Linked DNA regions of Homo sapiens: region 1 is linked to region 2. The links come from fine-mapping of genetic effects on gene expression. A gene starts in region 2. The other region holds a variant in brackets. All regions are shown on one strand. Distances are between the middles of the regions. Region 1 has its middle 120 kb from the start of GCFC2. Region 2 holds the start of GCFC2 (GC-rich sequence DNA-binding factor 2).

Region 1 (16,399 bases), 120 kb after region 2:
AAGAAAGGGCAATTCGTTTTTTCAAAAGAAAAAGGAGTATTCTCGAGAAAGGAGCAATTAAGGGAAGTGCAGTGAAGCATCCAGAGAGGTATGATTTTAGTTTGAACTGGTCACAGACTTGGGTTATTACTTGAAGGAGAGTTTTAACCACTTTATTTGCAAATAGTGCATATTGGTAGAATAGAAGAGGAACCCCTTTTCTTACCAGACATAAGTTCAGAATCTGGTATTTATTCTGATGGGGTTGATGAAATTAAATGTTATACAGTTGTTTGTCATAGCTTTTAATGGTTAAAAAAAATTTGTCTTCACTATAGTCCTTGAAAAGACATAAGGAAATTAAAATTTAACAGCCTGAAAAATTAAGATTTAATACCCCTGCAATGTATCGTCTCCTTAAAATATTTTAGATGGTCTTCTTATCCAGTTGTAAAATGATACATATTCATTAAAAATATTAAAATACAGAGAAATACACAGAGTAAAAATAAAATCACCTGGAGGGGAAGTATCAAAACGGCAGACTGGAAGCAGCTCATGAAGAGGAAACGAAAGGGCTGGTGAACACTGACCCTGCAGGCTGATCATCTGAAAAACCTGTTGGGATCCATCGAGGCAGCAGGGGAACACAAAGAGCAGACAGGAGTGAGGCTGGGCCCTTGTGGAGCCAGGAGAATCTCTCCAACATGGGAAAGGGGAGTTGAGTGAGAGCCCCCGAAGGACTCATGTTCTCCAAAGGGACCTGTGCAAAACTGGGAATGGGATCATACTCCTGGCCCCCCAACATCTTCCCACTATGCTTCTAGTGGCAGAGAGCCACCTAGATGTTCTGCGAGGGCAACTCTGGAGTCCAAGGGGACCTCTATAAGCCTTGGGCCCTGAAACAGATCAACAGTGGCACCATAGCCCTAGTAGAGGCCATAGTTGCTGTTCCTAGAAGCAATAAGATTGCTCTACTCATTCTTGCCAGATGGGGCTTGGCACCAGCTCGTGATGCAATGGTCCTGCTTTGGCCCAAACTTGGCTGGCCACTCCACTCACCCCTGCCACTGGTAACCAGGTGGGCAACACTTACTGGAGCCTCCAACCCAGTAGCCCTTCTTTTGTGCGACCTCAGCAGAAAGGCGTAGCCTCATGATATCTTAGAAACAGGTGAACAGCAGGGTGCATGACCCTATCCACCCCCACCACTGATAGCCAGAAGGGCAACACCTCCTAGAGCTGCTGGCTCAGTGGCTCTGCTTCTGTGTGAATTCAGCCAGTGGGCACAGCCTCATGTTTTCCCAAGAAGTGCACAGACAGAGATCCCACCCACTGCTGTCACTGATAGCCAGGTAGGAAACAACTGCTAGAGCTTCTGGCCCAGTGGCCCTGCTTCTGTGGGAACTCAGCTGGAAGGTGTAGCTTCATGTTTTCCCAGGAAACACCCAGATGGCAGGGTATGTGACACCCCCACACCCCCACCACTTGCAGCCAGGAGAGCAATGCGTGCTAGAGTTTCTAGCCCAGGGGTCCTGGTTCTATGGAAACTCCGCCAGTGGGCACAGCCTCCTGTCATCCAAGGAAGCACTTGATGGCAGGGTGGGCATCTCTACCCACTCCCACCACTGGTAGCTAGATGAGCCACACCTGTTAGAGCTTCTGGCTCAGCAGCACTACTTCTGCCAGAATTTGCTAAAAGGCACAGCCTCCTGTTGCTCTGGAAAGACCTGGAGGGCAGAGCAGGCAACTCCACCCACCTCCACCTTCCAAAGCCAGATGAATCACAGCCGCTAAAGTTTCCAACCCAGTGGTTGAGTTTCTGCATAAACTCTGAGGCAGGCACAACCCTGTGTTTCCCCAGGAAGCACACGACCTGACAAGGATGTGATTTGTCTGCCAACTGTGGCCCCTGCTTGAGGGAGCTGCATGAACCAGAATACCCAACAAAATACCCATGGGGACAGAGAAGTAATCAGAGGGGGCTCCTCCAAGACCCAGGAGTGGACTAGAATCAAAGCCAGTTAATTGAATTGACCTTATACCATAACCAAACCCCCAAGGGCACCAAAGAAAAAAAAGCAAAAAAGAAAAATTGCATCTAAAGGACAGCAACTTCAAGCTTTGAAGGAAGATGAGCCCACACAAATGGGAATGAATCAGCATAAGAACTCTGGCAATGCAAAAAGCCAGAGTGCCTTCTTCCCTCCAAATGACTGCACTTGTTACCAAGAAAGGGTTCTTAACCAGGTTGAGATGGCTGAAATGACAGAACTAGTATTCAGAATATGGATAGCAATGAAAATCATCAAGATTCAGGAGAATGTTGAAACCCAATCCAAGGAAGCTTAGAATCACAATAAAATAACACAGGAGCTGATAGAACAAAATAACCATTATATATATATATATTATATATATATGTATATAAATATATATATTTTATATACGTATATAAAAATGTATATTTACATATATAAAATAAATATTTTATATACGTATATAAAATATATATTTATTTTATATACGTATATAAAATATTTATTTTATATATGTATATAAAATATTTATTTTATATACATGTATATTAAATATATATTTATATATGTATATAAAAATATATATTATATACATGTATATAAAATATATATTATATATGTATATAAAAATATATATGTATATAAAATATATATATTATATAGATATATAAAATATATATTATATAGATATATAAAATATATATATTATATAGATATATAAAATATATATATTATATAGATATATAAAATATATATATTATATAGATATATAAAATATATATATTATATAGATATATAAAATATATATATTATATAGATATATAAAATATATCTATATAATATATATGTAAAATATATATAAAAAACTGATTTGATAGAGCTAAAAACATACAAAAAGAATTGCGTAATGCAATCCCAAGTGTTAACAGCAGAATAGACCAAGCTGAGGAAAGAATCTCAGAGCTTAAAGACTGGATCTCTGAAATAACTCAGTCAGACAAAAAATAAAGAAAAAAGTATATAAAAAGAATGAACAAAACCTCCATGAAATATGGGATTATGTAAAGAGACTAAATCTTTGACTCACTGGTATCCCTGAAAGGGACAGAGAGAAAACAAGCAATCTGGAAAACGTATTTCAAGATATCATCCATGAAAATTTCCCCAAGCTAGCCAGAGAGGTCAACAGTCAAATCTAGGAAATGCAGAGAATCCCTGCAAGATATTTCACAAGAAGACCATTTCCAAGAAACATAATCAGATTCTCCAAGGTTGAAATGAAAGAAAATGTTAAAGGCTGCTAGAGAAGAGGGGCAGATCACCTACAAAGGGAGCCCTGTCAGGCTAACAGTGGGCCTTTCAGCAGAAAACCTACAAGCCAGAATAGATTGGGAACCTATATTCAGCATTTTTTAAAAAAAATTTCAACCAAGAGTTTCACATCCAGCCAGACTAAGTTTCATAGGTGAAGGAGAAATAAGATCCTTTTCAGACAAGCAAATGCTGAGGGAATTCATTACCACCAGACCTGCCTTACAAGAGGTCCTGAAAGGAGCACTACGTAAGGAAAGGAAAGATCATTACCAGCCACTATAGTAACACACCTAAGTATATAGATCAGTGATACTATAAAGCAACCACAAGAACAAGTCAGCATAGTAACCAGCTAACTACATGATGATAGAATCAAATTTGCTCACATCAATACTAACCTTGAATGTAAATGGGCTTGAACACCCCAAGTAAAAGGCACAGAGGGGCAAGTTGGATAAAGAAGCAAGACCTAATGGTATGCTGTCTTCAAGAGACCCATCTCATGTGCCATGACATCCATAGGCTCAGAATAAAGACATGGAGAAAAATCTACCAAGCAAATGGAAAACAGAAAAATGCAGAGGCTGCAATCCTAATTTCAGGCAAAATGGACTTTAAGTTGACAAAGATCAAAGAAGATAAGGAAGAGCATTATATAATGGTAAAGGGTTCAATTCAATAAGAAGACTTAACTATCCTAAATATATATGCGGCCAACACAGCAGCACTCAGATTCAAAAAGTATGCTTTTAGAGATCTACAAAGACTTAGTCTCCCACATAAAAATAGTGGGAACATTCAACATTCTATTGACAGTATTACACAGATCATGGAGTCAGAAAATTAACAAAGATATTCAGTACCTGAACTCAACACTTAGCCAAATGGACCCTCTCCACCCCAAAACAACAGAATATACATTTGTCTTATTGCCACATAGACCCTACTCCAATCAGAGTATGAAACACCCAATCAGATATGAAACAACATTCAGCAAATTCAAGAAAACTGAAATTATATCAACCACACTCTTGGACCATAGCACAATAAAAATAGAAATCAAGACTAAGAAAATCACTCAAAATCATACAATTACATGAAAATTAAACAACCTCCTCCTGAATGACTTTTGGGTAAACAATGAAATTAAGACAGAAATCAAGAAATACTTTGAAACTAATGAAAATAAAGATACAACATACCAGAATCTCTGAGAAATAACTAAGGGAGTGTTAAGAGGCAAGCTTATGGCCCACATCAAAAAGTTAGGAAGATCTCAAATGAACAACCTAATATCACAACTAGAAGAACTAGAGAAGCAAAAGCAAAGAAACCCCAAAGCTAGCAAAAGAGAATAAATAACCAAAATCAGAGCTTAACTGAAGGAAATTGAGTCACAAAAAACCATGCAAAAGCTCAATGAATCCAAGAGTTAGTTATTTTAAAGAATCAATAAGATAGATAGATCACTAGCTAGGCTAATACAGAAAAAAGAGAATCCAAATAAACACATCTGGAAATGACAAAGGGGACATCACCACTGACACTGCAGAAATACAAAAAACCTCAGAGACTATTATGAACACCTCTATGCTCACAAACTAGAAGTTCTAGAAGAAATGAATAAATTCCTGGATGCATACAACCTCCCAAGACTGAACCAGGAAGAAATTGAATCCCTGAACAGACCAATAATAAGATACAAAAGTAATAAAAAGCCCACAACCCCCCAAAAGCCTAGGACTGGATGGATTCACAGTTGAAATTTACCAGATGTATAAAGACGACTCCTTCCCAACTCATTCTGTGAGGCCAACATCATCCTGATTCCAAAACCTGGCAGAAACAACACAACAAACCAAAACTTCAGGCCAATACCCTTGACAAACATAGATGCAAATATCCTCAAGAAAATACTAGCAAACTGAATTCAGCAGGACATCAAAAAGCTAATCCATCATGATCCAGTAGGCTTTATCCTTGCAATGCAAGGTTGGTTTAACATACACAAACCAGTAAACGTGATTCATCACATGAACAGTACTAAAAATAAAAGCCACTTTATTATCTCAGTAGACGTAGAAAAGGCTTTTGATAAAATTCAATATCCCTGTATGTTAAAAACCCTTAGTAAACTAGGCACTGAAGGAATAAATATCAAAATAATGAGCCATTTATGACAAAACCACAGCTAACATCAGATTGAATGGGCAAAAGCTGGAAGCATTTCCCTTGAAAACCAGCACAAGACAGGGATGCCTGCTCTCACCATTCATAGTTAACATAGTATTGGAAGTTCTGGCAAGAGCAATCAGACAAGAGAAAGAAATAAAAGACATCCAAATAAGAAGAGAGGAAGTCAAATTATCCCTGTTTTCTGAGGACATGATTCTATTTCTAGAAAACCCGGTAGTCCTTGGCCGAAAGCTCCTGATCTGATAACAACTTTAGCAAAGTTTCGGGATACAAAATCAATGTACAAAAATCAGTAGCATTTCTATATACCAACAACATCCAAGCCGAGAGCCAAATCAGGAATGCAATTTCATTCACAGTTGGCAAAAAAAGAATAAAATACCTAGATATATAGCCCATTAAGGATTTGAAAGACCTCTACAATGAGAATTACGAAATACTACTCAGAGACATCAGCGATGACACAAACAAATAGAAAACATTTTATGCTTATGGATGGGAAGAATGAATATCATTAAAATGACTATACTGCCCAAAGCAATTTATAGATTCAATGCTATTTCTATCAAACTGCCAATGATATTCCTTACATAATTAGATAAAAAATTTAAAAATTCATACGAAACTAGAAAGATCCCAAATAGCCAAGGCACTCCTGAGCGAAAAGAACAAAGTTGGAGGCATCACATTATCCTAATTCAAACTATACTACAGGGTTATAGTAAACAAAAACAGCATGGTACTGGTACAATAACAGAAACATAGACCAGTGGGACAGAATAGAGAGCCCAGAAGGAAGGCTGCACACCTACAACCATCTCATATTTGACAAAGTTGACAAACACAAGCAATGGAGACAGGACTCTTTATTCAATAAATGGTGCTGGGATAACTGGCTAGCCGTAGGCAGAAGACTGAAACTGGACCCCTACCTAACACAACATACAAAAATCAACTCAAGATAGATCAAATACTTAAATGTAAGCTCTAAAACTATATAAATGTAAGCTCTAAAACTATATAAATGTAAGCTCTAAAACTATAAAAATGTAAGCTCTAAAACTATAAAAATCCTGGAAGATAACCCAGGAAACATCCTTCTGGACATAGGACTTGGCAAAGATTTCATGATAAAGACACCAAAGGCAGTTGCAACAAAAGCAAAAATTCACAAGTGGGACCTAATTAAACTAAAGAGCTTCTGCACAGCAAAAGAAACTATCAATAGAGTAAACAATCTACAGAATAGGAGAAAATACATGCAAACTATGCATCTGACAAAGGTCTAATGTGCAGCATCTATAAGGAACTTCAACAGATTTACAAGAAAGGAAAAACACACTAAAAAATGAACAAAGGAAAGGAACAGACAATTTGCAAAAGAAGACATACATGCGGCCGCAATTATGTGAAAAAACCCCTCAACATCACTGATCATTAGAGAAATGCAAATTAAAATCACAATGGGATATAATCTCACACCAGGGCTCTTAAAAAACAAAACAAAACAAAGCAAAACCAAAAAATCAGATGCTGGAGAGATTGCAGAGAAAAAGGAACAGTTATACACTGCTGATGGAAATATAAATTAGTTCAGCCACTGTGGAAAGCAGTGTGGTGATTCCTCAAAGAACTTAAAACAGAATTACCATTTGACCCAGCAATCCCATTATAGGGTATATACCCAATGGACCATATGAATCATTCTGCCATAAAGACACATGCATGCATATGTTCACTGCAGCACTATTCACAAGCAGAAAGACATGGAATAAACCTAAATGCCCATCAATGTTAGACTGGATAAAGAAAATGTGGTACATGTACACCATGGAGTACTATCAGTCATAAAAAGAATGAGATCATGTCCTTTGCAGCAACATGGATAGAGCTAGATACCATTATCCTAAGCTAAGACAAGAACAGAAAACCAAATACTGCATGTTCTCACTTATAAGTGGGAGCTAAACAGCAAGAGCACACGGATACTAGGAGGGGAACAACAGATACTGGGGTCTACTTGAGGGTGGAGGGTGAAAGGAAGCAGAGAAGCAGAAAAAATACCTATCAGGTACTATGCTTATTCCCTGGGTAACAAACTTATCTGTACACCAAACCCCCATTACAAGCAATTTACCTATATAACAAAACTGTGCATATGCCCCTGAACCTAAAATGAAAGTTAAAAAATGAAATAAAATCACCTGCCTACAGACAATCCTATTGGTATTTTAGAGTATATTCTTTCAATAATTTCACTGTCCATTAATATACACACACATTTTGGAAAAATAAGATTACCCTATTATTATTATTTCTGTAAACTGCTCTTTTCACTAATGCACGGCAAAATTTTTTTCAAAGCCGTTAAGTATTCTTTTCAATATAATTTATACTCATTCAGTTTATCTAAGTAATTTATTTAATCAATCTCCTATTGTTAATAAGTTATCTCTTTCTCCAGTTTTTTTATTTTTTATCATTATTAGCAGTGGTTTAATGCACCTCATTTGATCAATTTCCAAATATTTAATGAGCGTTTAGTATATGTCAAGCCTCATACATGGCTGAATACAAACAGACTTGGTTCCTAACCTTAGGCAAGTTAGTGTAGTGGGAGATACAAATTATAAACAAGTAAATCAACAGGCTTAGGTATTTTGTGGTTGCCCCAAGGAGAACAGGATTAACCCCTACCTAAATTAGTCATGATGGTGAGACTGATGATGCTGCATGCACCAAGAAGGTATGAATAGGTTTATTACTCACATCATGAGGCTCTCCCGAGAGAGCAGGGCAGGTGTAAATTAATCCAGATGGCTTAAGCGAAGTGGAAAAAGTGGACTGGGCCATTATAGTGGCCGTAGGGTGGGGCCTTGTGAGGTTTGGACTGCTGCTAGCAGCAAGGATTGGGCAGACAGGAAAGTGGAACAGGGATTCAAAAGCTGTCAACAGTTTTACATCAAAAAAGGTGTCAGCAGGCCGGG[C/T]GCGGTGGCTCAAGCCTGCAATCCCGGCACTTTGGGAGGCCAAGGCGGGCGGATCATGAGGTCAGGAAATCGAGACCATCCTGGCTAACATGGTGAAACCCCGTCTCTACTAAAAATACAAAAAAAATTAGCCAGGTGTGGTGGCGAGCGCTTGTAGTCCCAGCTACTCAGGAGGCTGAGGCAGGAGAATGGCGTGAACCCAGGAGGATGAGCTTGCAGTGAGCCGAGATCGCGCTGCTGCACTCCAGGCTGGGTGACAGAGCGAGACTCCGTCTTAAAAAAAAAAACAACAACAAAAAACAAACAAACAAACAAAAAACAAAAAAAAGAGGTCAGTCTGTTTATTGTAACAGGTAATTAGAAATTGAGGAAATGCCATGAAGACAATAACTTGGAAGAAAATTATTGAGTTATTAAATTGGGGGGCTCTGGGAAGGTTGTTCTGAGAGGTGACATACAAGTTAAGAAGTTAAGAGTGAGAAGGAGCCAATCAGATAAAGAGCTGGGGCAGGAGCCTGTGAAGGGAACAGCCAACACAAAATGAAAGACAGTTTGTCATGTCTGAGGAGGGTTATGAGAGAGTGGGAGTGGGCACCGAGATGAGAGACAAAATTGTTGAGGTAGGCAAGAGTTAGATCCTGCAGGGCATAGTAGGCAATATTAAGAAGTTTGCATTGGATTTGTTTGTGCAAGAGGAAGACACTGATGTTTTAGGCAAGGGAGTGACATTACCTGACTTGTTTTTAAAATATCACTTCAGTTGTTATGGAGAGACTATATCGTTGGTGCTAAGTGTGGCAGCAAAGAAAATAAGAAGTTATTTCAGTAGTCCAGTAGAGATATGACGGTGGTTTAGGCGAGAGGGGTGGCAGGGAAGATGAAGCAAAATGAATGAATGATTCATAAAGATTTGGAGATTACTGATCAGAATATTGTGGCTGAATGGAGGGTATGAGTAGAGGATTGAACTAACTCCAAGTCTTCTGCCTTGAACAATTGGATAGGTATTGGTGCCATTTATTGTAGTGCATTCAGTAGTGGAGACAAGATATTTAAAGGGGGAATGAGTGGCAGGGTTTGGTTGGGGAGTAAATTCAGGAATTTGGTTTTTGACAAGTTAGCTTTGATAGGCTTATGACATAGCCAGGTGGAGATGCCAAACACGTAGTTGAACAAATGAATCTGGAGCTCAGAGGTGAGGTTGTGATGGAAGAATAAATTTGGAAGTTGTTACCACATAAATGACATTTAAAACAAGAGACTGGTTCAAACTGTCAAGGGAGAGAGTGCAGGGAGAAAGGTGGGTTAAAGGAGGAGTTCCCAGGAAACATGATGAGGAAGTTTCCAGAATAGTAGGAAGGAAATGAGGAGGATATGCTGTCATGGAAGCCAGAAAGGAAAATATAGCAAGAAAGTTGGAGGGGCCAACTTTGTAGAATGTTGCTGAGATGTCAAAAAACGGTAGACCTTAAAGTGCCTAGTGGGTTTTGCAACAGGAGGTCACTGGTGACTTTGAAGACCTTGTCAGTAACGTAGTGGGTGTGAAAGTGAGATTAGAGTTGGCTGAAGTGGGAGGTAAGAAGAGAAGACAATGTGTGCAGACAACTTTTTCAAGAAGTTGTCCTTTGAGGGAGCAGAGAAATTTGGTAGTAGCTGAAGGAAGATATTGGGAAGAGGGCTTTATCAAGATAGTTTGAGTGCTGATGGGATAATTCTTGTGGAACAGCTTTTGGGAACATTCATTATTAACTCCATAAATTACATGAGAGGCTGAATAGCACAGAGTTTAGGAGCATGGGCTGTGGAGCAGGCTGCCTGGGCTCTATCCCTTAGTGGCTGTGCAACAACCTTGGGTGAGTATCTTAACTTTGTCTCTGCCTTAATTACCTTATTTGTAAAATGGGGATAATGACACTAATAGTACCTACCTCATCAGGATGTTGTGAGGATTGAATAAGTAAATATTTGCTAAGTTCTTAGAATGCAGCCTAGGACATTCATATAGTACACATTATATAAATGTTTGCTAAATAAACAAACATAAAATACAAATGATTATAAGCAGAATTTCTAAGACATAGAGTACACACATTTTAAAGCCTTTGGTGATACCAAATTGCTTTTCACAAAATATCACCAGCTTGTGTGTTCATGGGCTGTCAACAAAAGGGTTAGTTTCTGGACCTCCTTACCAACATGAGGTAATATATATCAAAAACACTGCATTTTGCAAGGCAAAAAAATATATATATATATATTGGCTGTGTCCCCACACAAATCTCATCTTGAATGAATTATAGCTCCCATAATTCCCTCATGTTGTGGGAGGGACCCAGTGAGAGGTAATTGAATCATGACGCGTTTTCTCCCATACTGTTCTCGTGGTAGTGCCTAAGTCTCATGAGATCTGATGGTTTTATAAGGGGAAAACCCTTTCACTTGGCTATCACTCTTCTCTTGTCTGCTACCATGTGAAATGAGCCTTTTGCCTTCCAGCATGATTGTGAGGCTTTCCCATTGATGTGGAACTGTGAGTCCACTAAACCTCTTTCTTTTGTAAACGGCCCAGACTTGGGTATATCTTTATCAACAGCTTGAAAACAGACTAATACACTGAGCATTTTTAAAAAGCTTGTTGGCAATTTAAGTTTTTTCTAAAATAAGTTGCCTATTTTTGTCCATTGTTTATATTTTCCATTGTGGTGTTTTGCTTTTCTCGTATTGCTTTTAAAGAACTAGTAAGGCATCAGACTTGAGACTTTTTTCTCCTTTTGTCATTTGCTTTTTAAGTGATGATTTGGGGGCCAAAAAAGGTCTTATTTGTGGTGAAATATTTACTTTTCTATATTTTTTCTCTCTTTTACTGACAAATGAGATACTCATCTATGTTCCTTCTTTTTTTTTAGTTGTATTTTTTGAATTATATTTATAATCCAGCTGGAATTTATTTTAGTGTATAGTATAAAGTATGCATATAATTATTTTTACACAAATATTTGAGCAGATTTACCAACAACATTTATTGAATAATCTATTCTTCTCTTGCTAATTAGACATAAATCCTTCATTATATGTAATCATCTATAAATATTTGAGTCTGTTTCTGCTCTTTCTATTCTTTCTATTGTTCTATTCCTGTTCCAATGATCTGTTCTTTCTATTCTTAATTTAGTGCAAAACTCTCAATTATAATGTCTTTGCAATTGAAAATTTAAATAAAACATATAAATATAATCTGAATCTGATTTTGCAAAATCCATTACTTTTTTTTTTATTTTTCAAAATTGATCACTTGCTTCTGCCTGGTGACTTTTTAAATTTGAAAATTAATATGTTTTAAAGTTCTACATAAACATTCTGGTAGGATTTGTATTACCCTTATGAAATAATTTAGGATTATTAAGGCTCCCATGATATGGCTTCTGTGATAGGTAGTGCATTGAGTGTGGGCAAGAACTGTGACTACTATGGGATATCACTCCCATGATTAGGTCACTAATTAGTTGATTTTTGAGTTAGTCAAAAGTGAGACTTTCCAAGTGGGCTGTACCTAACCAAGAGAGCCCTTAAAAGGGCCTTGGACCTCATTGCAAAAGAGATTTAAAGTGTAACGGGAATTTCATGCAAGTGAGATTCTCCGTTAATAACTTTGAAGATGGGAAGGGTCTATGCAAGTAAAAACCAGGGAGTCGCTGGTTGGAGCTGAGAGCAATCCCTAACTGACAGTCAGCAAGGAACTGAATTCTGCCATCAATCTAAATCATCTTGGAAGAGAACCAGATTTGAGATCCAGAGGAGAGCACATCCTTGTAACACCTTGATTTTGATTTTGGTCTTGTGAGATCCTGAGCTAATGACACGAACCCAGTCGTGTCATGCCTGGACTTCTGACTCACAGAACTGTGAGTTAGTAAATGGATGTTGTTTTAAGTTATTAAGTTAGTGGTAATTTGCTAGGCAGAAATAGAAATGTAATGCAGTTTTCATTTATTAAATTCTCCACTGTTGTAAACCTCAGTAAAGTTTTATATATGGATCCAACATGTTTATTGGTAAGTGTATTCCTGAGTGTATTGGTCAGGGCTCTTACTTACAGACAAATAATCCTCTAGCTAGTGCCAGCAGAAAGAAGACACCCCTGCCCCCCGCCAAAAAGCTGAGTATCTCACAGAAACCTTGGGAAAGTTGGAGAACCAGGCTTAGATGCCAGAAAGCCAAAAACAAAGCAGCCGGGGGAAACTGCCTAACCACAATATGAGACTATTCTAGCAAAACTAGCTGCTGATGTGTTACTGCTCAGCACCTCTGACACATTCTGGATGCCTGAAACCCTGCTACACATGCCCTGGAGGAATAAAACTCCTCAGCCATGAAACTTGCCAGAAGATCTGGCTTTCCTGCCTGTAGCTACTTATTTTTTTTCCTAAGTTTCATGCTGATGCTTCTGCTTGGTGGAAACCAGGCAATATATCAAATTTTACCTTCAACAGAGGCTGGAACATGTAGTTTAAGGCTATTGGCCTATCTAGTAGAAGAAAGAAAATTAGAAGAGGGTAGAAAGAGGTGCAGAATGAGCCAGCTTACAACATCCATGATTCCATGCATTTTATATTTTGTTGTTATTGTGAAAATGATCATTTGGTGAGGAACGGTGCACTCCAGCCCAGATACTATGCTTTTCCCACGGTCTTTGCAACACGCAGACCAGGAGATTCCCTCTGATGCCTAGACCGCCAGGGCCCTGGGTTTCAAGCACAAAACTGGGTGGCCGCTTGGGCAGACACCAAGCTAGCTGCAGGAGTTCTTTTTCATACCCCAGTGGCGCCTGGAATGCCAGCAAGACAGAACTGTTCACTCCCCTGGAAAGGAGGCTGAAGCCAGGAAGCCAAGTGGTCTAGCTCAGTGGCTCCCAGCCCCACAGAGCCCAGCAAGCTAAGATCCACTGGCTTGAAATTCTCACTGCCAGCACAGCAGTCTGAAGTCAACGTGGGACACTCCGGCTTGTTGAGGGGAGGGGCGTCCACCATTACTGAGGCTTGAGTAGGCGGTTTTCCCCTCACAGTGTGAACAAAGCTGCCAGGAAGTTCAAACTGGTTGGAGCTCACCGCAGCTTGGGAAAGCCACTGTAGCTGAAATACCTCTCTAGATTCCTCCTCTTGGGCAAGGCATCTCTGAAAGAAAGACAGCAGCTCCAATCAGGGGCTTATAGATAACACTCCCATCTCCCTGGGACAGAGCACCTGGGGGAAGGGGTGGCTATGGGCGCAGCTTCAGCAGACTTAAACGTTCCTGCCTGCCGGCTCTGAAGAAAGCAATGGATCTCCCAGCACAGTGCTCAAGCTCTGCTAAGGGACAGAATGCCTCCTTGAGTCGGTCCCTGACCCCTGTGCCTCCTGACTGGGAGACACCTCCCAGCAGGAGTCAACAGACATCTCATACAGGAGAGCTCTAGGTGGCATCTGGCAGGTGCCCCTCTTGGTTGAAGCTTCCAGAGGAAGGAATAGGCAGCAATCTTTGCTGTTCTGCAGCCTCTGCTGGTGATACAAGCAAACAGCATCTGGAGTGGACCCCCCGCAAACTCCAGCAGACCTGTAGCAGAGGGGCCTGACTGTTACAAGGAAAACTAACAGAAAAGAATAGCATCAACATCAACCAAAAGGACATCCACACAGAAACTCCATCTGAAGCTCACGAACATAAAGGCCAAAGGTAGATAAATCCACAAAGATGAGGAAGAACCAATACAAAAAGGCTGAAAATGCCAAAAACCAGAAAACTTCCTCTCATCCAAAGGAACACAACTCTTCACTAGCAAGGGAACAAAACTGGATTTAAAATGAGTTTGATGAATTGACAGAAGTTGGATAATAACAAACTTCTCTGAGCTAAAGGAGCATGTTCTAACCCAATGCAAGAAAGCTAAAAACCTTGAAAAAAGGTTAGACGAATTGCTAACTAGAATAACCAGTTTAGAGAAGAATATACATGATCCAGTGGAGCTGAAAAACACAGCACAAGAACTTTGTAAAGCATATACAAGTATCAATAGCCAACTTGATCAAGTGGAAGAAAGGATATCAGAGATTGAAGATCAACTTAATGAAATAAAGCGTGAAGACAAGATTAGAGAAAACAAAATGAAAAGAAATGAACAAAGCCTCCAAAAAATACGGTACCATGTGAAAAGACCAAACCTATGTCTGTTTGGTGTACCTGAAAGTGATGGGGAGATTGAAACCAAATTGGAAAACACACTTCAGGATATTATCCAGGAGAATTTCCCCAACCTAGCAAGACAGGCCAATATTCAAATTCAGGAAATACAGAGAACACCACAAAGATACTCCTGGAGAAGAGCAACCCCAAGATACATAATCATCAGATTCACCAAGGTTGAAATGAAGGAAAAAATGTTAAGGGCAGCCAGAGAGAAATGCTGGGTTACCCACAAGGGGTAACCTAGATCAAATTAACAGTGGATCTCTCAGCAGAAACCCTACAAGCCAGAAGAGAGTGGGGGCCAATATTCAACATTCTTAAAGAAAAGAATTTTCAACCCAGAATTTCATATCCAGCCAAACTAAGCTTCATAAGCAAAGGAGAAATAAAATCCTTTACAGAAAAACAAATGCTGAGAGATTTTGTCACCACCAGGCCTGCCTTAGAAGAGCTCCTGAAGGAAGCACTAAACATCAAAAGGAAAAACTGGTACCAGCCACTGCAAAAACATATCGAACTGTAAAGACCATAGACACTATGAAGAAACTGCATCAACTAACGAGCAAAATAATCAGCTAGCATCATAATGACAAGATCAGATTCATGCATAACTATATTAACCTTAAATGTAAATGGGCTAAATGTCCCAGTCAAAAGACACAGACTGGCAAATTGGATAAAGAGTCAAGACCCATCAGTGTGCTGTATTCAGGAGACCCATCTCACATGCAAAAACACACATAGACTCAAAATAAAGGGATGCAGGAATATTTACCAAGCAAATGGAGAGCAAAACAAAGTGGGGGTTGCAATCCTAGTCTCTGATAAAACAGACTTTAAACCAACAAAGATCAAAAAAGACAAAGAAGGGCATTACATAATGGTAAAGGGATCAATGCAACAAGAAGAGCTAACTATCTGAAATATATATGCACCCCATACAGGAGACCCCAGATTCATAAAGCAAGTTCTTGGAGACCTACAAAGAGACTTAGACTCCCACACAATAATAGTGGGAGACTTTAACACCCCACTGTCAATATTAGACAGATCAATGAGACAGAAAATTAACAAGGCTATCTAGGACTTGAACTCAGCTCTGGACCAAGTGGACCTAATAGACATCTATAGAACTTTCCACCCGAAATCGACAGAATATACATTCTTCTCAGCATCACATCATACTTATTCTAAAATTAACCACATAATTGGAAGTAAAACACTCCTCAGCAAATGCAAAAGAATGGAAATCATAATAAACAGTCTCAGACAACAACGCAATCAAATTAGAACCCAGGATTAAGAAACTCACTCAAAACCACACAACTACATGGAAACTGAATAAGCTGCTCCTGAATGACTACTGGGTAAATAACAAAATGAAGGCAGAAATAAATAAGTTCTTTGAAACCAATGAGAACAAAGACACAACGTACCAGAATCTCTGGGACACAGCCAGAGCAGTGTTTAGAGGGAAATTTATAGCACTAAATGCCCACAGGAGAAATCAAGAAAGACCTAAAATCAACAACCTAACATCACAATTAAAAGGAGAAACAAGAGCAAACAAACTCAAAAGCTAACAGAAGACAAGAAAAAACTAAGATGAGAGCAGAATGAAGGGAGATAGACACACGAAAAGACCCTTCAAAAAAATCAATGAAT
Region 2 (16,399 bases):
TTGATATATGAATGTGACTTTAATAAATGGCTCAAAATCTGTATCAGCAAAGGAAGAAAACTTAATAGAGATTAAATACAACTTAGAAAAATCAAACAAATCTAGAAGTATCAGAAAATATACTGAAACTGCTTCATTTTATCTTTTAACTCTCTTACTCATCAGGTACTGCTCACTTTGTTGAGGGGTCGCTATTTCTCATTTCTGGAAGCTCTGAGATTGTCAGCGCAGGGATGTGGAGAGGGCTGAGTGTGGTGTTCCCCAATCAGTGAGAGCTACAGAAGTTAGAAGGATCAATGACAGACCAGCCTGACTTACCAAGTAAGAGAGATACTACACTATGATGTCCTCCTTCCTCCTTCCCTCCTACCCACACTTACAAGAAATCACAAACATACTACAAACAGTAACAGAGCAAAGCCAAATTAGCCTCTGCGGTTCTGTAGTGAGCCCCACGTGAATAAACATGAGACATTAAGAAGTGTAAAGAAAATAATCAGGCTCATTTACCAGGTGAAAAATTTTAAATGACAACAACTCTTAAGAGAGTCTTATTTTTTTTCTTTATTTTGTACAGCATAAATATCATTAGCATAAACTCTTCCAATTTAAAACGAGTTTCTTCATGCATGATCTAAGCTGAAATTTATCTTCATTCTGGAAAAAACGGTTTCTTAAGAAAAATACTACATTAAAGAAACAGCGAGAGAAATTTTCACCATTTTAAGCACTTCAAACTACTAAAAAGATGTCAAGCTACTGAGGCTGAAGTGAAATTTTCTAAACTTTCCCACAAGTTGACCCAAATTCTTTGAGAAATAAACAGAAAAATGCCATGTACTTGGAGATGCACAAAAGCTCCCATGTTTGAAACAAACAAAAAAAGAGAAAGATTTTAGAAATCACAGACCAATATGCTTGACATCAGCCCTAGGGAAAATTAAAAGTCCTTGAGTGAATCATGAAGCAATAAAGAAATCACTAGAAGTCAATAAATATTCATCAAGAACAAGTAATAGAAAATGAAGTGATTTGCTTTTTTATAGATTAGTAATTATTTATAGACTACTGTCAGGGACATGATGAAGGTCAGGTGTCTCTTCCTCCTCCCAAAGCATTTAAGATTCAAAACCATCACAGCAGGTTATAGTAGCAATTCTCGACCCTGGCTACACATCAGAGTCACCTGAGAAGCTTGACATACCCAGGCCTCTATACCAGTGATTCAGATGTTGATCTGAGGCAGAGCTGAGCAGAAGTATGTTTTTATAGCTCCCTAGAGGATTTTAATGTGCAGGCAGGATTAAGATAAGACATTTAGGTTCAAATACTCAAGTGTATGAATGTGGACACAGAAATACTTATTTTGGAAGTGATTTTCTTGCAGGTGACTCGGTAGGGTTTAATTAGTAAGTCACAAGCAATGGGACACACTAGTAAGATATTAGTGCTACATAAAGGTAACTGCTCAAGTAAAAATAAAGAAGTAAAAAACCAAGGAAGAGAAGAGTATTGCGTTTGTCCTGTTTCTGCATATTCAATACCTCGTTCAAGGGTTCTCACACAGCAGATGCTGGGCAGACATAGGAGGAATCAATAATGTCAGCATATTGTTCAATAATAAATACATCATGTTTTTACAAATTTATAACTTATGAATAATTCTTCACATATATCATCCTATCTGATATGCAATCATCTAGGGCTGAGAGGTAAATTATCATCTTCTATTAGTAACAAGTAATCTCTGCTAGAGGGACTATTTTGAGGCAGTTATTCATCGGAACACAAATAAATGCTCTTCTTCCACATGCCAGCCCTTAAAATTAACACATTCCTCCATCTTTTCTTCGCCAGCCAATAAGTCCTTCGAACTTTCAGGTGTTCCTCACAGGACAAGTTTTCAATTTTTAATCAGCGTTTCTCAATGTGCATAGGGGATGGGCAATTCACTGCGCTGAACTGTTCTGCACTCCTGTTAAGACATTTATCATCCCTTGCCTCTAGGGCACTATGTGCCAGCAACAACTCAACTACTATAATCATTTAAATAATCCCACACATTTTCAAACGCTGCCCTCTCTCCTAAGGTGGGGGCAGTGCTGCCAACACTTTACAACCACTGCCTTATCCTGTTTAATCCACCATCTTTTTTTGTTTGTTTGGTTTTGAGATGGAGTCTTGCTCTGTTGCCCAGGCTGGAGTGCACTGGCATGATCTCTGCTCACTGCAACCTCTGCCTCCCAGGTTCAAGCAATTCTTTTGCCTCAGTCCCCTGAATTACAGGTGCATGCCACCATGCCTGGCTAATTTTTACATTTTTAGTAAAGCCAGGGTTTCACCATTTTGGCCAGGTTGGTCTCAAACTCCTGACCTCAGGTGATCCATCCACCTCGGCCTCCCAAACTGCAGACATGAGCCATGGCACCTAGTCTAATCCGCCATCTTTTATAGTAGCATTGTTTGGTACAGTAGCCACTAGCCCTATGTGAGTATTCAAATATAACTAAAAATTCAATTTCTCAGTCTCGCTATAGCCACATTTCAAGAGCTCAACAGCCACTTGTGACTAGTGGCTACCATATGGACAGTGAAGATAGAAAATTTTTCCAAACCACAGAAAATTTTACTGAATAGCACTGTATCTAGAATCCAGACAAGGCTTCAACTGTTTACTAGATTTCAGTTCTTAATATTGGCTTAATCGCTTAGTATTTCTGTACCTTGTGGACATGGAGAAGAAACAAAATTACAAGGTTACAGAGCTACTGGTTGTTGTTATTTAATAGGCTAATAAAGAAGCACTTATGGCCGGGCGTGGTGGCTCACGTCTGTAATCCCAGCACTTTGAGAGTCCGAGGTGGGCAGATCAAGAGGTCAGGAGATCGAGACCATCTTGGCTAACACGGTGAAACCCCATCTCTACTAAAAATACAAAAAATTAGCCAGGCGTGGTGGCCTATAGTCCTAGCTACTCAAGAGGCTAAGGCAGGAGAATGACGTGAACCTGGGAGGCGGAGCTTGCAGTGAACCCAGATTGCGCCACTGCACTCCAGCCTGGGCGACAGAGTGAGACTCCATCTCAAAAAAAAAAAAAAAAAAAAAGAAGCACAGAAGCACTTATTACTATATTACAAGCGTCATAAAATATATTTTAATAATTTTATTTCAATATAATTTGTTTCCTCTACAAAGCTATGTATTTTACTTTATTTTCTCAGAAGGGATCTTAGGCTTCACTAGACTGAAAAAGGAGTCCACGGCACAAAACAAGTTATAAACCTCTGTAAGACGCCAGATAAATATTTTTCACTTTGCGGGCCATAGGGTCTTTGTGGCAACTTCTCAACTCTGCTGCTGCAGTGCAAAAGCACCCACAAATATTAAGTAACTGAAAGACTGTGATTGTGTTTTAATAAAACTTTGTTTACAAAAACAGGTGGTGGGCCAGATTTGCCAACCCCTGAACTAGACTGATCTTTCTAAGACACAAAAACATTCATGTCATCTGTATAAAATTTTCAGTGGTTCCCTAAGCCCTGTATAATCTGACTCCAACTTGTCCTTCCTGTTTTCTTTTCCTTAAACTCGCAACCAAATACTTTCAGCCAGAGCTATTTTTAGCTTCCTGCACATATTACATACCTTCCCTAGAGTTTCAGATATGCTACATCCTATACCTGAAACATCCTCCCTGACAAATTCTTACCATCCTTCAAGTATCAATGTCAATCACCCAGTATAGCACAGTGATTAAGAAGAATACAGGCTCCAGAACAAACTGGGTTTGAATCCTAGCCCTGCTACTTATAAGCTGTCTGACCTGTGCATGTTAAAATGTAATAAAAATGAGCAATTTTGGCACTCTGACAATCATCATTAATGACCTACTTGCCCCATGTCACTAGAGTTTGTTATGTCATTAATAACTATATCAAAAACACTATATTAAAAATAAAATTCTTAACCAAAATCATACAAATTACTAACCTGTTGATGAAAGTTCTTTTTCTCCAAGAGAGCTAGAACTGTCAGAAGACAAACCCTGATCATCCTTACTTTCTGAGGAGTGATGTATTTTATCCTCTTCATCTGTGGACACATCAAGGGTTCTGGATTCTAACAGGACATTTTAAAAATACAACAAAAAAGAGTCAAAATAATGGAATTATTAATTGAAATTCTGAACAACACATGGCATATGTATAATACGGTGTTTTAATCCTAGTCCATATATTAAAGTAGACATATTGATCTTCCTCCAACTTTCTTTCTTAAGCAACTGAATGATCTACTAAGTGTACAAAGACCCTATTTGTATTATCTAGGCATCTAATAATATATTTCCAAAAGTATGCAATGAGAAAAGGGAAGGAGGCATTAGAGAAAAAAAAAGCGACAAAAAATGAAGTAATATTTAGAATAGTAATGATTGTGAATAAGTAGAAAAGAAAAATATTTAATGTATACTATGTACTAGGCACACTGAAACCTGTTTTACATGACTTATTTAATACCTGTAATTCTATAAAGTAAATGCAATTTCTGATGAGTTCACTAAGGATTGAGAGGATAAAGAACACCAACTCGGGCAGTGGAGAAGCAGGGCTGTCAACCTAATCCCAGGCAACTTCAGAACTTAGGCTCTCTTTATAGTATGCCATATTTCAACGGCTGGTGGCGAGAAATATTGTAACGAGCACTTTGGTCAATATTAAACCATGGGTCCATCTTTTCAATGCATGATTTGGGAAGGTAAATAGTCTGTTAAATTCAATTAATCTGTTAAACAAAGATAACACCAAGATAAAACCCACAGGGGTGTTGTGAAAATTGAATGAACAAAATAAAGGAATTCTTGACATTATTGACAAGAAAGGATTTCTTAATCCACAATAAATTTGCAATCTTTATGAGTAACCTTAAAACATAAGATTACATACTACTCATTAATTTTAATTTTCTACCTTAGTTAGAAGACCTACATACAGTTCAAAAAAGGCTGGAGTAAAATCAAAATTTAAAACACTAAAAAAAATATAGCTGCAGCTCACATCTTTCTTAGATATTGTCATTTATGACAACCCATACCTGTTTCCAAAGTGGATTAACACCAAAGCAGTGGGTCTTAAAGCATGGTTTATCAATCCCTGGAGGTCCTTGAGACTCTTTCAGAGAGTCTGTGAAATTAAAACTACTTTCATCACAATAATAACATGTTATTTGTTCTTTTTACCATGTTGATATTTATATAATGAAGTAAAGGCAGTGATGGGTAAAACTGCTAGGCTCTTGGCATGAATGAATCAATTTGTAGTAGCAGTTATGGTATTTTTCCTTACCTCACATGGCAGAAAAAAGCCAGTTGCTCTTCATGAACTAATTAAAAAATTGTTATTTTATTAAATTTTGACCCTTGAGTACACATGTTTAATATTCTTTGTGACAAAATCAAAGTATTCATAAGGCACTTTTGCTGCATCTTGAAATGCAATGGCTGCCTTAAGGAAAAGCATTTGTGTGACTGAGTTGCAAGCTGAACTAGACGTTGTTTTTAAGAAGCATCACCATTTTACTTGAAAGAATGACTAACAAACCGATTATTCAGACATGGCTATCTGACAAACATTTTCTCAAAACATGAGCCCGGTTGTGCCTATCAATAAAATGAGAGATTTCAAGTGAAAATTGAGATTTTGGAAAACTTATATTCTCTACTGTGAACCTAACAGCTTTCCAGTACTTACAGACTGATTAATCAGTGGTAATACTATGATTTTTTTGGTATTGTACAATAAAATGCTCCAACATTTGCAAGATCTGCAAACTCAGCTAATGAATACCTTCCAAATAATGCAAGATGTTACCAATCGTTCATGAGTAAAAGATCCAAAGTACAAAACAGAACAGAGTTTTAAGGTAAGAGCACCCCAAATTTAATCATATGGTTTAAGAATCCATTTGGCAACTTTTTTTTTTTTTTTTTTTTTTTTTTTTGAGATAAAGTCTCACTCTGTCACCCAGGCTAGAGTGTAGTGGCACAATCTCAGCTCACTGCAACCTCTGCCTCCCGGGTTCAAGTGATTCTCTGCCTCAGCCTCCTGAGTAGCTGGGATTACAGGCACCCACCACCATGCCTGGCTAATTTTTGTATTTTTAGTAGAGATGGGGTTTCACCATGTTGGCCAGGCTGGGCTCGAACTCCTGATCTCTTGATACACCTGCCTCGGCCTCCTAAAGTGCTGGGATTACAGGTGTGAGCCACTGTGCCCGGCCCGCAACTAACTTTTAAGAAGGGTTAGTTTATTACTTGTTGAGCTGTGTTATATTAAAGCACAACACCCTCAATGATCTAAAAATGCTATTAAGTACTCGTCTTAATCATGTATCTGTCAGAGGCTGTATTTTCTTCAAATACTTCAACCAAAACAAAATAGCACAAGAGATTAAAAGCAGAAACACCTATGACAATTCATCTGTCTTCTATTAATATTTTGCCAGACATTAAAGAGATCTGTAAATTGAAAACAATGCTACTCTTCCTTTTTTGGGGTAATACTTTTCACAAAAATCTTACTTATCCTTACATGTAATAGATTTTTTGTAAGTGAATTAATAAATTTTATTTTTAGTGTGATAAATATTGATAGGTATAACCTACTGAAACAAAAGCTCTTTGGAATCCTTAATCATTTCTAAGAGTCTAAAAGAGGTCCAATTCCCAAAGAGTTTGAGAACCACTATTCTAGAAGGCAAGAGAAAAGGAACTCCTGACTTCAACTTTCATCTACAAAGTTTAACCAGAAAACAAATATAAAAGGTCATGAAAACTTTAGACAAATAGAAGGTCACAAGAAAGACCAAGAAATCACGAAGATCATAAACCTGGAGGACATTATGTTACATGAAATAAGACAGGCACAGAGAGACAAACACCACATGATCTCACATATGTAATCTAAAAAAGTGGAAATCAGAAATCACAGAAGCAGAGAGTCGAGTAGTGGTTAGAAGGGACTGAGTGAGGTTGAGGGTAGTTGGGAAGATACTGGTCAAAGGGCACACATTTTAATTAGACAAGAGGAATTCTATTCTACAACACGGTGACTAAAATTAATAACAATGCATTGCATACTTGAAAATTAGTAAGAGTAGATAGTAAGTGTTCTCACCACAAAAAAAAGTAAGTACCTAAGGTAAAGCAAATGTTAATTAGCTCCATTTAGTCACTGTAGACACATTTCAAACATCATGTTGTACACTATAAGTATATACATTTTTTACTTCTCAATAAATTAATAAAAATCACTTTAATGACAATAAAAAATAATAGGAAGATTTTAGCTCTCAAGACTAACCAAAAACCGTATTCCTCATTAAGCTACAATTCCAACTCAGAGCAGCACATTTTATTTAAACAACTTTATGCTGCCTTACACCTGTATTTAAGAACTCAAAGGTACTTCAAAATGACGACACTATATCTAACACCATTACTGGTACCATCTACAGTGTCATGAATCTCTATCATGCTTCTTTGTGTTGTATATATTACTATTAGTTTTTGCAAATAACTGGTGAAAAAAGAAAATAAACAAAGGGGAATGTCCCAAAACCTAGATTCCTGTACTACTCTGGCTAAATGTTTTCAAGAAAGATAAGTTGGTCAAGTGTCTAAAAGGTACATATAACTTCTGCCCACTTAATAGTATTATAAATTATTGAACTTTGTTGTGACAGTTTAGGTTCTTCATAAACTTTGATAACTGTGTTAGTTATAACTGATGGAGTCAACTGATGGTGAAAACGAAGAGCCTCCCAACTGTACACGATTGTTTTATTTCCCCCAAGGAGTCCAAAAGGCAGATGCAGATAGCGGGCAAGTGCTCGAGCTATTTTCTCGCTCACTACCTTCTGGATAAGTCTTTCTGGATAAGACTCAGCATGGCTTGTGGTCGGCAGCAAGTTATAGAACCCCCAGAGAAGGATCCAGAGACCCCGCGGCCCCTTCCCGCCCTGTGCCGTCACCTCCCCGCTTCCCCGCGTCTCCCTGGACACCTGAGCCTTCGTCCGCGCGGGGAGCCGCTTTGGTGGCACGCCGGGAGCTCGCCCAGACCCGGCCCCGGCCACGAGGGCCCCGAACCCGGTGGGGCAGTCCCGCCACCTGCGCGCGGCCTCCTCCAGAGGGCGGCTCTTCCTCCGCAGAACCCGGGACCGGAAGTTCCCTCGGCGCCCCAGGCTCAGCAGGCGACTCCTCGGCGCCATCGCTGTCGCTGGAATCAGCCGCGCGCTGCCGAAAAGTCCTTTTCGGCCTGTGAGCCATGGCCGAGGCCCGAGCGCCCGGCGCCCTAGAACCCGCTGAACCGCAAGCCGCAGCTTCAGTGCCCGCCCCCTAGGGCGCGCTCCCGCCGCGCCTGGCCGCCGAGTGCGCGCGCCCGTCCCGCCTGCCTTCTGCTCACCGCTACTCTGTCTGCGCCTGCGTGCTTTGGCTCCCTGGATCTGGTAGGCCGAGTTCTGTTCTGGGGCCTGAGTTTGCAAAGCATTCCCTTTGCCAGGTTAGGTTGCGTGGACTGACACCTTAGAGATTTTCACGGCCTATCCGGTCTGAGTCCCACGGAGAGCAGAACTCACGTGCTGTCCTTGTGCAAACCCCATCCAGAAATCAAGCGTTATGCTTTCCGTCCTGGACTGGAGCCAGATCCGTTGTCTTTTACTTTCTGGAGAGAGTGCCCCCTCCAACCAAGATTTAAAACAAACGAAACCCCAGCAGTGTGAGGCTCGGGGTAGGAGGAGATGCCTTTGAGAACAAAACCATAAAGTCTGTACATAAACAATGCATACAGACTAGCAAAAATCAAATGACTTCCCCCAGGCAGCAGGGCTTCAAGAGAGCCTGGTTAAATGTTTTCACCCTTAAAGAAACTATCTAAAAACAAAAAGCTATTGTCTGACGCAAATTTGTTCTATATTCATCAAGCTCTGTCTACTACTGTATCTGTATGGTAGAAATACTATATAATGTTGAGCTACTGCACACCTGTTATCAACTCCATGTTTAGTGGCGTCATATTGAGAGGTGACAGCGGGCCAGCTGGAGTTCCGGGTGGGCATGGGCTTGGCGGGCCTGCACTCGGAGCAGCCGGCCGGCCCTGCCAGCCCCGGGCAGTGAGGGACTTGGCACCCGGGCCAGCGGCTACAGAGGGTGTACTGGGTCCCCTAGCAGTGCCGGCCCACCGGCGCTGTGCTCGATTTCTCGCCGGGCCTTAGCTGCCTTCCCGCGGTGCAGGGCTCGGGACCTGCAGCCCGCCATGCCTGAGCCTCCCATCCACTCCATGGGCTCCTGTGCTGCCCGAGCATCCCCGACGAGCACCACCCCCTGCTCCACGGCGCCCAGTCCCATCGACCACCCAAGGGCTGAGGAGTACGAGCGCACGGCGCCGGACTGGCAGGCAGCTCCACCTGCAGCCCCGGTGCGGGATCCACTAGGTGAAGCCAGTTGGGCTCCTGAGTCTGGTGGGGACATAGAGAGTCTTTATGTCTAGCTCAGGGATTGTAAATACACCAATCAGCACTCTGTATCTGGCTCAAGGTTTGTAAACACACCAATCAGCACCCTGTGTTTAGCTCAAGGTTTATGAGTGCACCAATCGACACTCTGTATCTAGCTGCTCTGGTGGGGCCTTGGAGAACCTTTATGTCTAGCTCAGGGATTGTAAAAACACCAATCGGCACTCTGTATCTAGCTCAAGGTTTGTAAACCCACCAATCAGCACCCTGTGTTTAGCTCAAGGTTTGTGAGTGCACCAATAGACATTCTATCTAGCTGCTCTGGTGAGGCCTTGGAGAACCTGTGTGTGGAAACTCTGTATCTAACTAATCTGATGGGGATGTGGAGAACTTTTGTATCTAGCTCAGGGATTGTAAACGCACCAATCACGGCCCTGTCAAAACAGGCCGCTGGGCTCTACCAATCAGCAGGATGTGGGTGGGGCCAGATAAGAGAATAAAAGCAGGCTGCCCCAGCCAGCAGTGGCAACCCGCTCCGGTCCCCTTCCACAGTGTGGAAGCTTTGTTCTTTCGCTCTTTGCAATAAATCTTGCTACTGCTGACTCTTTGGGTCCACGTGGCTTTTATGAGCTGTAACACTCACCGTGAAGATCTGCAGCTTCATTCCTGAGCCCAGCGAGACCACAAACCCACCAGAAGGAAGAAACTCCAAACACATCTGAACATCAGAAGGGGCAGACCCCAGACGCGCCACCTTAAGAGCTGTAACGCTCACCGCGAGGGTCCGCAGCTTCATTCTTGAAATCAGTGAGACCAAGAACCCACCAATTCCGGACACAATATTGGCACCTTGAAATCAGCCATAAAGGGACTACTTATACCATATAAATTGGAAGACCTTAGAAGTCCAGGTGTTTCTCCCAGATATCCAGTCATTAAACATTTACCATTGTATCACTGACTATATGTCACCAAAGGAATCGAGAAGAGGCAAAGTTTCTCTGATTGACCTAGCCCCGGAATTTTTTTTTCTTGGCTTTGTCTTTTTTTCTTGGCTTTTCTCAATAAACTGAAACTCCTTGATGTAAATTTGGGAAATTATATGATACAGTATTATCAGTTATTCACAAGTTATTAATGTCTTATTATAAAGAGAGGCTTCTCTTTTTAAATCCAGGTAAAATTAGAGAACTACTTGTTTTTTTGTGTGTTTCTTTTGGAAAATTGGCAAATGGTGTGAAAAAGATATTTCTGGAGAATAGAGATACTTGTGGCATCTGAAAGAACAGCTTCCTATCATGGACCAAGTGCTCCTTGTAGTTAGAATAAACTTTAAAGATTGGAGATGGAGAAGTGGGTTCCGTTCGGTCCAGTGCTTTTCAGATGCCATCTTTCCATGCAGAATTCCCAAGTTCTGCCATGGATACTGCTCTGTACTCCCTTAGCAGAGGAGGACATCTTTCCAAATTACACTATAAAGTAGTTAATGCTAAACCAAACAGGAGACTATAATTTTTAGTTTAGTTAATTTTATGGACAGAGTCTCGCTCTGCCACCCAGTGCGATGGTGCAAATACAGCTCACTTCAGCCTTGACCTACTGGGCTTAGTGATCCTCCCACCTTAGCCTCCTGAGGATCTGGGACTACACGCGCATACCCCAATGCCCAGCTAAGACTAGCATTTTGAAACAGTGAGGAGAATGAGGAAGATGATCGTGATTGTAATTGGAGAGAAATTCAGTGTTCTGTTATGCACTCTTAAGGAAACATATTAATATATCGTACAATTCAATCAGTGTTTATTATACACCTACTAGCACAGGCACCATGCTAAGCCCTAGACTAATGCTTATCAAATCTAATGTTCTTCAAAGCACATGGAAATAGTGTGGACATATAGATACTGATTGAGCTGCTATGTGTAGGAACCAAGAGTCTTCATTTCTAGCAAGCTCCCAGGTGAAGGCGAGGATACTTGTCTGAGGATCACTCTAAATAGCAAGGTCCTAGAGCAGATACTAAGTATTAATCACCCTTAAGAAGGCTGGGCGCAGTGGCTCACGCCAGTAATCCCAGCACTTTGGGAGGCCGAGGTGGGCAGATCACGAGGTCAGGAGTTCAAGACCAGCATGACCAACATGGTGAAACCCCATCTCTACTAAAAATACAAAAATTAGCCGGGCGTGGTGGTGCATGCCTGTAATCCCAGCTACTTGGGAGGCTGAAGCAGAAGAATCACTTGAACCCAGGAGGCGGAGGTTGCAGTGAGCCGAGACCGCACCACTGTACTCCAGCCTGGTGACAGAGTGAGACTCCATCTCCAAAAAAAAAAAAGAAGTCTTAAAAAATAGTCTAAATAACTTAATCATTGATGAACTTCATATCAGATTGTAACAGCATGTAAATGTTAGGTACCTCAAAATTTAGAAACCTAAATAGCCCCCCAAAAGGAAAACTAATAAGAATCTATTCAAAGTGAGTAAGGTTATTTAAGTGTAGAAGTTGTTCACCATAAGGGGATATCTGTCTGCACCTCCTCAAAAAGGGTTCTCTGCCAGCTTCCAAAGTCATTTTAGGTGTTTGTTGCAATTGGAAAGGGGGTCAGCAGGACAGAATTCACTCCCAGTGTTGCTTAAAAGGCAGCAGTTTATTTAAGGACAATCTAAGTGTGATGTTGGTGTTCTAGAAGGCTGTTCTTTCCCTTCAAAAGTCACTAACTCACAAACGATGTTAAACCAAAATGTGAAAACGCTAGGCAGAGTTTACTGTTCTCGGCTGAGTTCAGAGCCATCTGCTAATGTGGACTCATTGTTTACTTTCCCATTTTAAAAGACACTGCCTCCCCAGACAGAGCCCTTCTTTTACTCATTTTGATATCCTATACCTAGTTTAGTGTTTAGTGCACAACTGACATGAACACAATGAACTAAATGGTTGGATGAGGCAATTCTGAAACATCTGTGTTCACTCACGAAAATAAAACTGGAAAACAAGTCACTCTAACTTGTTAAATGCAAACATGTTAAGAGATAGGTGATATATGATGGAGATAGAAAAAACTCTGCTATTTAAAACAGAAATCAAACATTTGTTCTAAGGGAAAGAAGTGAGAAAAATTATTTTCTCTGGGTGTTGCCTTGGTGGGAGAGGATGAAATAAAGATAACTTATTTAATAAAGGGGGAGGAATCCTGAGTTTTCTCCTCTGTCCCCAGGGAAAGCAGAGCGATGACTCTGAGGGATAGTTGCCAGATTTAGAAAAAATATAGAATACCTGGTAAAACTTGAAATTCAGATAAAACAGGAGTAGCTTTTTAGTATAAATAGGTCCTATATAATATTTGGGACATACATGCATGGTAGATTTTGGAACTCTAGGGTAAAGAGAAGTGTGAAGAATTTCAAAGGGTAGAGAAAAACTTCAGAATCTGAGGTGGAGGGTGGGGGATGGTTGTAGTCTGGAATCTGAGAGAAATGAGGGTCAGTGAGAAGTTCCCAGTTACATGGGAGAATCGGATGAAGTGCTTTTTAGATACAGTGCAGTTTTCTTCCAAGGATTTAGTAAAACTTTGCTCCAAATACAATCTTTTTTTTTTTTTTTTTTTTTTTTTTCAGACGGAGTCTCGCTTTGTTGCCCAGGCTGGAGTGCAGTAGCGCGATCTCAGCTCACTGCTACCTCCGCCTCCTGTGTTCAAGCGATTCTCCTGCTTCAGCCTCCTGAGTAGCTGGGATTACAGATGTCCGCCATCACGCCCTGCTAATTTTTGTATTTTAAGTAGAGACAGGGTTTTGCCATGTTGGCCAGGATGGTCTCAAACTGCTGACCTCAGGTGATCCGCCTGCCTCAGCCTCCAAAAGTGCTGGGGTTACAGGCATGAGCCACCGTGCCCAGCCTCCAAATCCAATCTTAACATTGCTGTTGAGATTGAAAGAGTTGGCAGCTGAGGTCAGGTGGTGGATGAGGAAAAGCTGGTGGCTCCACGATTCTGAGCTGAGGGTGTCAAAGGAGATGGAGTGGATGATAGGAGAGAAGCAGGCTACTGAACACGCTGGCTTAGGAGTGGCTGTGAGATAGCCCCTTTCCCCAAATGTACCCAAATGTACCCAAGAAGGTGCAACTTTAAAGTAGAAGATGCTCCACGGAGTTACCTATGGGCACAGGAAAAGGGCAAAGAGCAAAACTATATTTCTCCAAACAGCTTTTCCCGATACTCATATTTACCACTGCCTTATGTAATTTCTCATTTTCATGAATACTAGGATTTTTACCACCATCCTTCATCAAGCAGGTAGAGATAATGCCATATCTTTTTATTTGCCCTACTGTGTTTATTTACAATATTAGCTTATTAAGTAATTGGCTGATCATTATGAGAGTTTGTATTATTTCCCTTTTATGTCATTTAGAATTGCAGAGGTTAACAATGGGAAAAATTGGCATATTAAAAATTCCCAACTTCTGGAAATCAATGTCATATTTACCCAAACAGACTTTTCTCCCTAAAGTGAAGTGACATTTTATCCAGCGTGTCTTGCCATTTAATGGTGGATTCTGAGCTCCCTCTAGTGAGAAATGCGCTTCTTATAAACGGATTGTATCAAATAATCTCATGGAAATTGCCTCCTATAGAGCTGAGTAATGAATATATTTTCCTTTTAAGCCAGGCTCTTTAAAACTTTCTAAGAGGACAAAATTTTATGAAGTCATGTTTATAAGTCATTTTTTTAATTAAAAAATTACTATGGAAACACATTCATACAAATATGAAACTAACTGTGCTTTCATTTTTTCAGCATCTATTTTTTTAAGCACTTACTATGATAGGGGCCCTGCGCTGGGACCAGAAGGTCATGAAACACATGGGGTCCTGTTCCAAAGGTCAGGTGTGAGGAACCCACATTAGCCCTAGGATCTGGTTTATTGGAAATACTTTATGATATCCTGTAATCCCAAGTATTGAGAATTTTCTCAATTTTAGGTCCTAATTTTCATAATGAATAGAGGTCTTTGAGCTGTCACTCTTATGTGCCTGAACTAATCTATTGATTAACTGTCAGATACCCCAAGGACCATCAGAAAAACCTATTGATCAACCAAAGTCAAGTTTATAAGATTAACTACAGTAAGAGAGAACACCACCTTGACAGAATCTTATAAGTATCTGAAAATGAAAGAATAAGGCAGGGTATTTACAGAGTTTTAGGACCTAGGCTGGGCGATTTTGTTTTTGTTTTTGTTTTGAGACGGAGTCTCGCTCTGTTGCCCAGGCCGGACTGCACTGGCGCAATCTCGGCTCACTGCAAGCTCCGCCTCCCAGGTTCACGCCATTCTCCTGCCTCAGCCTCCCGAGTAGCTGGGACCACAGGCGCCCGCCACTGCGCCCGGCTAATTTTTTGTATTTTTAGTAGAGACGGGGTTTCACCTTGTTAGCCAGGATGATCTCGATCTCCTGACCTTGTGATCCACCCGCCTCAGCCTCCCAAAGTGCTGGGATTACAGGCGTGAGCCACCGCGCCCGGCCAGCTGGGCGATTTTTGAAAAAAATGTGTTTTACTGTGGTAAGAACACTTAATGTGAGGTCTATCCTCTTAACACATTTTCAAGTGTAAGATACAACATTGCCAACTATAAGGACAATGTTGTACAGTAGGTCTCCAGAACTTACTTATCTTGTACAATTGATACTTTATACCAGTTGATTAGTGATTTGTCGTTTTCCTCTTTCCCCAGCCCACAGAAACCACAATTCTACTCTCTGATTTTATGAGTCTGAATATTTTAGATACCCCATGTAAGTGGAAACACACAGTGTTTTTCCTTCTTGGTGGCTTATTTCACTTAGCATAATGTCCTCAAGGTTAATTCATGTTGTTGCATATTGCAGGATTTCTTTATTTTTTAAGGATGAATAATATTCCCTTCTCTCTATACAACACATTTCCTTCATCTGTTCATCCTTCACTTGACAAAACAGTACTGCTACTATGGAAAACAATATGAAGATTCCTCAAAAAATTAAAAGTAGAACTACCATGTGATCCAGCAGTCTCATTTCTGGGCATTTAGTCAACAGAATTGAAATCAGGACCTCTAAAAGATAATTGCACTCCAGTGTTCACTGCAGCACTACTCACAATAACTAAGATGGCATGGGTGATTTTCAGTTAGGTCTTGTAAGGAGGTCAAGGTGAAAGGAGTCATGTGAAATAAATCATGCTGTGCTAACCAACCACAAGCTATTCATGCAATGGAGATCAAGTTAAGGTCAAAATACATGGCAATTTATAGGCATTAAGAGGAACAATGTCAAAAAAGGTCAGTTTAGAGGGTGGTTATGAGTGCCTTTCTTCATTTTAAATCCCTTGCCTTTGAGATCTAGGAAAAATTCTAGAGTTTTCCTTCTATTCCAACCAATCAGCTTTCTAACAAATCCAGGCTTCTTTTCAGTGCCTCCACTAGGGTTTCTCATTTGAGGTACTGAATGAAAAACCTTTCACTCAATATGAAATGTAACACACATCCAGAAAAATGCACAAAACAAACATGTACAGTTCAAGAACTTATCATAAAGCAAATCCCTCCACAGCCACCAACAAAGTCGAGAAATAGAAGATTGCTAGCATCCCAGCACTCTCTTTTGTTCCCCTTTTCAATCATTTCACCCTCCCTGTCCCCAGAAGTAATCATTGTTCTGACTTTTACAGTAATCACTTCCTTGCTTTTTTAAAAATACAGTTTTACTGCAAGCACACATACTCAAACACTATGATGTAGCTTTGTCTGTTTTTGAACTTTTGAGATCATACCATCTGTATTGTTTTGTGCTTGGCTTTTTTTGGCTTAATATGTGTTTGTATTATAATTCCACATTGTTCTTCTGTGTAACTGTAG

The links. PIP is the estimated chance that this variant, and not a neighbour inherited with it, causes the effect.
Region 1: its variant is the best candidate, but not a certain one, in a credible set for the expression of GCFC2 in whole blood (TOPMed, PIP 0.54).

What each region holds. Positions count from the first base shown.
Region 1 is chr2:75,820,780-75,837,178 of GRCh38, forward strand. No RefSeq gene overlaps it. Among named protein-coding and RNA genes, the nearest start is that of GCFC2, 120 kb to the left of the region's middle. The variant C/T (reference allele first, on the strand shown) is at 8,516.
Region 2 is chr2:75,702,533-75,718,931 of GRCh38, forward strand. GCFC2 (GC-rich sequence DNA-binding factor 2) reads right to left here and starts at 8,383. Exons shown (of 17, transcript NM_003203.5): 1 at 8,059-8,383; 2 at 3,991-4,119. The coding sequence starts at 8,323. It overlaps LOC105374813 (a long non-coding RNA gene), which reads left to right and starts at 8,407. Exons shown (of 3, transcript XR_940260.2): 1 at 8,407-8,502. RefSeq lists a silencer at 7,915-8,214 and an enhancer at 9,193-9,764.